Homo sapiens: one gene and its partners. The protein of the gene in region 1 purifies or fractionates together with the protein of each later gene. This does not show direct contact. Each region holds a gene or a part of one and is shown in the gene's direction. Other genes may lie near its edges.

Evidence for each region.
Region 2: the proteins of SSX1 (region 1) and CRIP2 purify together in Homo sapiens (affinity purification with mass spectrometry; one large-scale study listed by BioGRID and IntAct). This does not show direct contact.
Region 3: the proteins of SSX1 (region 1) and ACO1 purify together in Homo sapiens (affinity purification with mass spectrometry; one large-scale study listed by BioGRID and IntAct). This does not show direct contact.

Annotation. Positions count from the first base shown.
Region 1 is NC_000023.11:48,261,745-48,265,400, forward strand, and holds part of SSX1 (protein SSX1), read left to right. Parts: intron 1-21; coding exon 22-71; intron 72-2,037; coding exon 2,038-2,173; intron 2,174-3,656. UniProt on the Homo sapiens protein: Could act as a modulator of transcription. Plays a role in spermatogenesis.
Region 2 is NC_000014.9:105,477,681-105,480,678, forward strand, and holds the end of CRIP2 (cysteine-rich protein 2), read left to right. Parts: intron 1-585; coding exon 586-680; intron 681-769; coding exon 770-827; intron 828-1,050; coding exon 1,051-1,191; intron 1,192-1,298; coding exon 1,299-1,367; intron 1,368-1,444; coding exon 1,445-1,539; intron 1,540-1,755; coding exon 1,756-1,813; intron 1,814-1,905; coding exon 1,906-1,973; 3' UTR 1,974-2,482; downstream 2,483-2,998.
Region 3 is NC_000009.12:32,450,557-32,453,025, forward strand, and holds part of ACO1 (cytoplasmic aconitate hydratase), read left to right. Parts: 3' UTR 1-2,469. UniProt on the Homo sapiens protein: Bifunctional iron sensor that switches between 2 activities depending on iron availability. Iron deprivation, promotes its mRNA binding activity through which it regulates the expression of genes involved in iron uptake, sequestration and utilization.

The DNA of each region.
Region 1 (3,656 bases):
TTCTGATGTGTTCTCTTTCAGTTGAACATCCTCAGATGACTTTCGGCAGGCTCCACAGAATCATCCCGAAGGTGAGTATCTCTCAAATCTAAAGGACCAGAGAACCTTTTTCCTTTCATGGATGTGAACACTGATAAGACAGGGAGAATATCAAAAACGCCCTCATTGCCTCTTTCTCCCCATGTCTATCACAACAACTTATGTAGCACCGACGGCTTGATAATACTAACAGTTGTGATCCTTAATACTTCTTTTGTTTTCATAGTGATGCCAGATACTATTTTAAGCAGTTCACATGGATTAATTAATTTAATCCATAAGAAGACCTCTATGACATTGTTTCTTTTATTATCTCCAAATAGTAATGAGTCACACACTTCGGTTGTCATCCATATAAAAGCCATGTGACTTGGCACAAATCTTCTAAGTTATCGGAGCTCCAGATTCCTAGTCCATGAAATGGAAGTAAAGAATAATAGTTCATGTTATAGACCATAGTTATCAGCAACATAATAATAAAATGAGGCTATCGGGGTACAGAGATGTTAAAGAATTTTCCTGGGGCACAGTGTCAGTGGTAGTCTAATCCAGAGCTCCAAGCCATTTAAAGCTCATTCACGTTTGTATTTGTTTATGAAGTTCAGATGTTGCTCACTAGGGCTTTACCCCATAGGGCCTACTGGTGCTTCCATTGAGACACCCACTCTCGCAACAGGAAGGACCAGCTGGCCTCTGCTCTGTTACCGGGGCCACTCCCATGGCTTAGGAATCGCTTTGACTGTTGGCCCCTCCTTGAGCTCCTTGAGGGCTTTGTCTGCACCTGGGGCATCCGAGAAGCCCCAGTCCCAGCCCAGGGGATCCCTCAGAGGCCCCTGAATGAGTGATTCTGGAAGTGCAGATTCAGCTCTGGTTTAGAAGGTAAAGGGATCTGGGAGTTGGGTTGCCAGTATGGAGAACGAATTCAAAGAAGGATCCAGAAAGGTATTCAATGTTATTATTATTACATTTGAACAATGTTTACAAGCTCAGAGAGGATTTTCCCTTAGCTTATTTTACATGTATTATTCACTATTTCATAAGTGAGGAAGCTGAGTAAAAAGTAGCTTAAGGGCCGGGCGCGGGGGCTCACGACTGTAATCCCAGCAATTTAGGAGGTTGAGGCGGGCAGATTACGAGGTCAAGAGATCGAGACCGTCCTGGCCAACATGGTGAAACCTCATCTCTACTAAAAATACAAAACTTAGCAGGGCGTGGTAGCGCCTGCCTGTAATCCTAGCTACTCAGGAGGCTGAGACAGGGGAATCGCTTGAACCGGGGAGGAGGAGATTGCAGTGAGCCAAGATCGCACCACTGCACTCTAGCCTGGTGACAGAGCGAGACTTTGTCAAAAAAAAAAAAAGAGTAGCTTAATATTGTTGGTCAGTGACACATCCCAGTGTAACCAGAATTGGTATGGGTACCACCTCACTGAATTCCACATTCAATGTTGGTGCCTCGGTAGGGTGGTATGCCAGATCTGGTACTGCTTTCTTTGCTGCCTAGATTAATTTCAGCAAACCATTTCTTTACCTCTCCCTTCCCTGTATTCATCTCCCCACACCATCTTTCCCAGCAGTGTTTTGTCCCCTCCCTATGTTTTTACATTTACTCTCCCAGCAGCTGTCTACGAGCTTATATGGGATCCCTTGTATTTTATAGAAGCTCTTCCTTTTGTAGACCTTGTGAATTCTTAGAATGCTATTTTTCTCCAAATATTCTGTGTACTACACTCTCAACTACATGGAGATTTCTGCTGTTTCCACGAATGTCAGTCTTAAAAGAGTGTGAAGATAAGCATTCTAGCCCTGGAAACTGCATTCATTTAGGCCATTCCTTTTGCTTCTAATCTCCCAGGTTTGTCTCATTTAGGCAAGTGTAACTCTCCCCGCGTTGTTGAGAACATTCATTAAGGTAATGCATGTGAAGACGCTTTGTAAGCTCTAAAGCACTATAGAAATGTCACTGATACTGTTTATCTGTAACCTTCACATTATAAAGATCATGCCCAAGAAGCCAGCAGAGGACGAAAATGATTCGAAGGGAGTGTCAGAAGCATCTGGCCCACAAAACGATGGGAAACAACTGCACCCCCCAGGAAAAGCAAATATTTCTGAGAAGATTAATAAGAGATCTGGTAAGAGGAAATGATTTGGGAACAACTTCTCTGGCTTTTCTGGCTATGTTCAGGTGTGTGGACTGGGTGTGTGGCATGGATCCCAGACAAGCCTGGGTCCAGGCTGGGCTGAAGAGCTCGCCCAGCTCCAGATGAGATGTTAGACATGACTTCCAGAGATGCAGACTGGAGTTGTCATCCATATAAAAAACCACGTGACTTGGGACAAGTCTTCCAAATTTTCTCAGCTCCAGATTCCTAGTCCATAAGATGGAAATAAAGAATCATAGTTCGTAAATTGTTTGGAGGCATTAAATTAAATCCTGAAGGCCTGATGACATGAAAGGTGCTCAAGCGATTCTATCTGTGATAACCTGGGATCATATCTTACTCAGCTCAATGCCTGATACCCAATACAGGTGTACTTCAGAGATATTGCAGGTTGGGTTCCAGAGCACTGCAATAAAGTGAGTCACACACATTGTTTTTCGTTTGTTTCGCAGTGCATAAAAACATTATGTTTACACTATAGTGTACTCTACTAAGTGTGCAATAGCATTATGTCTAAAAATGTACATACCTTAATTTTAAAATAATTTATTGTTAAAAAATGCTAACAATCTTCTGAGCCTTCAGTGAGTTACACTCTTCTTGTTGGTGGAGGGTCTTGCCTCGGTGTTGATGGCTGCTGGCTGATCAAGGTGGTGGTTGCTGAAGGGTGGAGTGGCTGTGGCAGTTTCTTAAAAGAACACAACAATGAAATTTGCCACATCGATTAGCTCTCCCTTTCATGAAAGATTTCTCTGTAGTATGTGATGCTATTCGATAGCATTTAGCCACTTTAGAACTTCTTTCAAAGTTGGAGTCAATCATCTCTAGCTATGAAAGTTTTAGATGGCATCTACTTCCGATAAAAGGCTGTTTAATCTATATTGAAAATCTGTTGTTTAGTGTAGCCACGTTCATCAGTGATCTTAGCTAGATCTTCTGGATAACTTGCTGCAGCTTCTCCATCAGTGTTTGCTGCTACACCTTGCACTTTTATGTTATGGGGACAGCTTCTTTCCTTAAACCTCACAAACCAACCTCTGCTAGTTTCACACGTTTCTTCACCTCTCTCAGCTTTCATGGGCTTGAAGAGAGTTCAGGTCTTGCTCTGAATTAGACTTTGGCTTAAGGGAATGTTGTGGCTGGTTTCATGTTCTATCCTGATCACTCAAACTTTCTCTATTGCAGCAGTAAGGCTGTTTTGCTTTCTTATTCTTGTGTTCACTGGGTATTAGTATTATTATTTCCTTCAAGAACTTTTCCTTTGCATTATATACTATTCTTTCTTTCAAGAACTTCTCCTTTGCATGCACAGCTTGGCTATTTGGTGCAAGAGGCCTAGCTTTCATCCTGTCTCGGCTTTCAGCATGCCTTCCTCACTAAGCTTAGCCATTTCTAGATTCTGATTTAATGTGAGAGAATGCGACTCTTCCTTTCATTTGAACAGTTAGTGGCC
Region 2 (2,998 bases), on another chromosome or scaffold:
GGGGAAGCGGGTGTGTGTCTGAGGAAGCGGGTGTGTGTGGGGGGAAGCGGGTGTGTGGAGGCGGGCGTGTGGGGGAGGCGGGTGTGTGTGTGAGAGGAAGGTGTGTGGGAGGAGGCAGATTTGTGGGGGGAGGCGGGCGTGTGGGGGAGGCGGGTGTGAGGCGGGTGTCCGGGAGGCAGGTGTTGGAGCGCGGGCAGGTGTTGGAGCGCGGGCAGGTGTTGGAGCGCGGGCAGGTGTTGGAGCGCGGGCAGGTGTTGGAGCGCGGGCAGGCTCGAGCACAGGCCCCTTCACCGCAGGCACTGAGGGGACTAACAGGGCAGCCCCGGGCCCCTTCTCAAAGGCGGCTCTAGCGGGGTTCCAGGGCTGGGGGCGCTGAGACCCAGAGGGAGAACAGGGCCTGGGGGCGACGGGCTCCTCCGGGTCTCAGAAGGAGGGGCAGGGCCCGCCAGGTGGAAGGAAGGCGCCTGGGAGACCTCCTGAAAGTGGGGACCCCCGGAGCGCGTGGGGGTGGTGGCTGCCAGGTGGGGGCGGAGGGGGTGCGGGGCGCGCCCCGGCCCTGACCCCCCTGCCGCCCCTCCCGCTCAGCCGAGAAGGTGAGCTCCCTGGGGAAGGACTGGCACAAGTTCTGCCTCAAGTGCGAGCGCTGCAGCAAGACGCTGACGCCCGGGGGCCACGCCGAGGTGAGCCCCACTGCGCGGCGCGGGCGGGGGCGGGGGTCGCGACTCCCGCCACCCTCAGGCAGGGTCCTGACCCGCGCCCCTCTGCGCAGCATGACGGGAAGCCGTTCTGCCACAAGCCGTGCTACGCCACCCTGTTCGGACCCAAAGGTGAGCTCCGGCTGCCCTCGGCCTGCCCTGGGACCTGCTGGGAGGGGCGTGGCGCTGGCGCTGGGGAGGGCTGGGGGTCCCGGCCGCCGTGGATCCCCGCCCAGAGTCCCTGCCACCCTGGAAAGCCTAGTGCCCCCCAGTCCCCAGCGGGCCGTTTTCTGAGATGCCCGGTGGCCGCGGCCCCCACCCCACGTACCCCCGCCCCACGTACCCCCACCCGCAGGCGTGAACATCGGGGGCGCGGGCTCCTACATCTACGAGAAGCCCCTGGCGGAGGGGCCGCAGGTCACCGGCCCCATCGAGGTCCCCGCGGCCCGAGCAGAGGAGCGGAAGGCGAGCGGCCCCCCGAAGGGGCCCAGCAGAGGTGGGCTGGGCGCGGGCTGGGGCTGGGGGTTGTGGGCACGCGCGGGCTGGGGCTGGGGGTTGTGGGCACCCCCGGCCCCGCCCCGCCCTGACTCGTGCGCCCCACAGCCTCCAGTGTCACCACTTTCACCGGGGAGCCCAACACGTGCCCGCGCTGCAGCAAGAAGGTGTACTTCGGTGAGTGCGCGCCCGGGCCCCGGACCCCCGCCCCCGCCCCCGCCCCGGGGCTCGGCCTCACTCCTCCCCCTTTCCAGCTGAGAAGGTGACGTCTCTGGGCAAGGATTGGCACCGGCCCTGCCTGCGCTGCGAGCGCTGCGGGAAGACACTGACCCCCGGCGGGCACGCGGAGGTGAGGGGAGTGCAACGGGGCTTGGGGGCCGGGCAGGGGCGCGGGGTCGGGGGGATGAGGGTGAGAGGCGCGCCTAGAGGGGATGGGGGGTGGTGCTTCTGGGAGCTGCGCTGCCCTCTCCCCCACGGCGAGCCGGCCTGCACGTTCTGGAAGCCTCCAGGTGATGGGTCGGGGGAGTCTGTGGACTCCTCCCTCAGCACCCACCTTCTGCCCCAGCACGACGGCCAGCCCTACTGCCACAAGCCCTGCTATGGAATCCTCTTCGGACCCAAGGGTGAGTGTAGCCAGGGTGGTCCACGATGTCTTCCCTGCCCTCCCCTTCCCTCCACTGTTCCCCCGACCCACCCCAGCGGCCTCCCTCCACAGGAGTGAACACCGGTGCGGTGGGCAGCTACATCTATGACCGGGACCCCGAAGGCAAGGTCCAGCCCTAGGCTACAGCGGCTCTCATGATGTGGGCTCACCTGCGCCCCAGACCCTGCAGGGGCCCCCCTGCTTGGCTCTGCTGGGAGAGTGCTCAGCCGCCCAGTCCTGCCTGCAAGCCCAGGGCGAGTATTGGAGGAGGGGCAGCCACGGGCAGAGCACCATGCCCATCCCCGAGTCTCTGGTGTGTCTGCCCCCTCTGGCATCCTCTGGGCGTCCCATGATCCCTTCTGTGTCTGCGTGTCCGAATCCCCGTGTGACCCTGTCCCAGCATTTTCCCGCCGACCCTGCGTGTCCCCGTGGCGCTGTCCGCTCTCCCTCTCCTGCTGCCCACCCACCTGCCAGTGTTATTTATGCTCCCTTCGTGGGTGATGGCCACGCCCTCACCATGTCCCTGGCAGAGGGCTTCCCTCCGGGATCCCCTGCCTGGTGCCCACACTGCCTCGCAAGCGCTCGCCACCCTCACGTGGCTCACCTGCTGTTGAGCCTTGTGCTGTCAATAAACGGTTTGAGGATTGCAGGATTGTCTCTGCTTGTGGGATGGATGCAAATCCCAGACCAGGGTCCCTTTCTCCGGTCCATGCGTGCTCCCAGCCAACACCCCTGGGCCTGGCTGCTAGTGGGGGTGGGCTCTTCTCCTGGGGGTCATAGTGGGAGGTGGGGCCCTGGGATGTTTCTGAGCAGGAGGGAGGGATGGGGGCGGGGAGCGTGGTCTCCGGTTTGGGTGGTGGTGCCCACCCAGATGGGGAGGCAGTAAGAACGCCAGGCTGTGGGGAGGTAAGGAAGGTGGGAGGCATTCCGGGGCCAGGGTCCTGGCCAGGGTCAGGTGAGGGTGGGGTCCATGGAGGACAGAGCCTTGGAGAAAAGTTGAACCTAGAACCCTGAAAATACCAACAGCAGGCCTGAGAACCCGGAGCTGCCTGGGTGTGTGGACCCTGGCAAGCGCAGGAGGGGTCCGCCCTGAGAGCAGAGTGTGGCTGAGGAGGGAAGGGGGCCGGGGACCAGAGGAGGGGTCCTGGGCAGAGAATGGGGAAGC
Region 3 (2,469 bases), on another chromosome or scaffold:
GTGTTAAGTGACATAGATAAGAACTTTGCACACTTCAAATCAGAGCAGTGATTCTCTCTTCTCTCCCCTTTTCCTTCAGAGTGAATCATCCAGACTCCTCATGGATAGGTCGGGTGTTAAAGTTGTTTTGATTATGTACCTTTTGATAGATCCACATAAAAAGAAATGTGAAGTTTTCTTTTACTATCTTTTCATTTATCAAGCAGAGACCTTTGTTGGGAGGCGGTTTGGGAGAACACATTTCTAATTTGAATGAAATGAAATCTATTTTCAGTGAAAACTTGTTGACTTTGAGTTTTGCTGTGTTTGTGGCTAGAGTTTTGGGATATTTAGTACAGAGTGAATCTCACACCATATCATTGGGAAGCCTGAATAACCTTCATATTCTCCCATTTTTACAACTCTATCAGAACTGTACGGGTATAACGGAAATGTTTAGGAACCATTATGCTCGCTCTTCCCTGTTTGGGAGCAGACAAGAAGGAAGAGTAGCCTGGTGGCAGTGGCAACGATATAAGTACATAAGGAAAAGCAGATAAACTTCAGGACACTAAAAACCAATTATCTGCTCATTTTTACCCCTGTAGTCATTTCTGGGCATGCCTTAGTTTGCTTGGGTTGCTATAATGTAATGCCATAGACTGGCTGAAAGAACAGAAATGTATTTTCTCACAGTTATGGAGGCTGGAATTCTGAGATCAAAGTTGAAGCCACTTCATTTTCTGGTGAGGACACTCTTCCTGGTTTACAGATGGCCACCTTCTTGCTTGTTCTCACATGGCATTTCTTTGGTATGTGCCTGGTGGGGGAGAGAGAAAATAGGCTCTCATGTCTCTTCTTACAGCAACACTAATTGTATTGGATCAGGGTCCCACTCTTATGGAGACCCAGGAAAGCTGGTGGTATAACAACTTGGTTCAAGTCCAAATGCCTAAGAACCTGGGGAGGGGCATGGGGAATGCTGGTATAAGTCCCAGAGTCTGAATGCCCAGGAACAAGCAGGAGCTGTGATGTCCAAGGACAGGAGGGCAGGATCTTTGTAATGAATTTTTAATGTCAACCTTAGCACTCAGGGGATATGGCCTGGTCATCAGAACATCTGGAATCTAATCCTCTTTCTACTTCTCACCAGATGAGGGATCAAGACAGGTTATTTAGCATCCCTGCACTTGCGGTCCTGGGGATCTTATTTATATTCATTTAAAAAATAAATTACAAACAAACAGCCAGGCGCAGTGGCTCATGCCTATAATTCCATCACTTTGGGAGGCCGAGGTGGGTAGATCACCTGAGGTCAGGAGTTCTAGACCAGCCTGGCCAACATGGTGAAACCCCGTCTCTACTAAAAATACAAAAAATTAGCCAGGTGTGGTATTGTGTGCCTGTAATCCCAGCTACACAGGAGGCTGAGGCAGGAGAATTGCTTAAACCCGGGATGCAGAGGCTGCAGTGAGCCGAGATCGTGCCATTGCACGCCCGCCTGGGCTACAAGAGCAAAGCTCCGTCTCAAAAAAAAAAAAAAATTACAAACAAACAGAACTCCATTGTACAAAAAAACCTGTGATCCTCAAGTTAAGATCAGTCCTAGAATAAAAACACTAAGAATGGCTGAGAAAACAGACCTCCACCCTCTCAGCTCTCCATTACTGAGCAGCTGGGGAGCTGTCTCGCTCCCCGCATTCAGTGGCTCCTGTGGTCTGTATTTTTGTATCCTCCCCAAAATTCAGGTGGTGAAACCTTAACCCCCCAGGTAATGGTAATAGAAGCTGGGGCCTTTGGAAGGTGATTAGATCATGAGGGTAGTGCCTTTTAAAAGAGACTCAAGATAAGATAGAGACCCCCTCATTTCTTCTGCCATGGGAGAACACAGCAAGAAGTCACCATCCGTGAACCAGAAAGTGGGTTCTCACCAGATACTGAATCTGCCAGTGCCTTGAACCTAGACTTTCCAGCCAGAACTGTGAGAAATTTCTATTGTTTATAAGCCACCCAGTTGATATTTAGTTACAGCAGCCCAACCAAGACTGTGGTTATGAGGAAACAAACACATTATTGTGGCTAGACTAATGGAATTGGGTCCCTTACCTCCAAGTACACCCTCTGTCCTTTTCGGTAAAAATATCTTCGCCAGGCACGGTGTCTCATGCCTATGATCCCAACACTTTGGGAGGCCGAGGCTGGAGGGTTGCTTGAGCCCAGAAGTTTGAGACCAGCCTGGGCAACACTCTACAAAAAAAAAAATAAATAAATAAATAAATAAAATAAATCAGCCAGGTGTGCACCTGTGGTCCCAGCTGTTCAGGAGGCTGAGGTGGGAGGATCACTTGAGCCTGGGAGGTCGTGGCTATGATTGCTCCACTGCACTCCAGCCTGGGCAATAGAGTGAGACCCTATCAATCAATCACCACCCCCCCCCCCCCCAAAAAAAAAAGTATCTTGGCCAGTGTCTCAACCTTGCCCACTAACAAG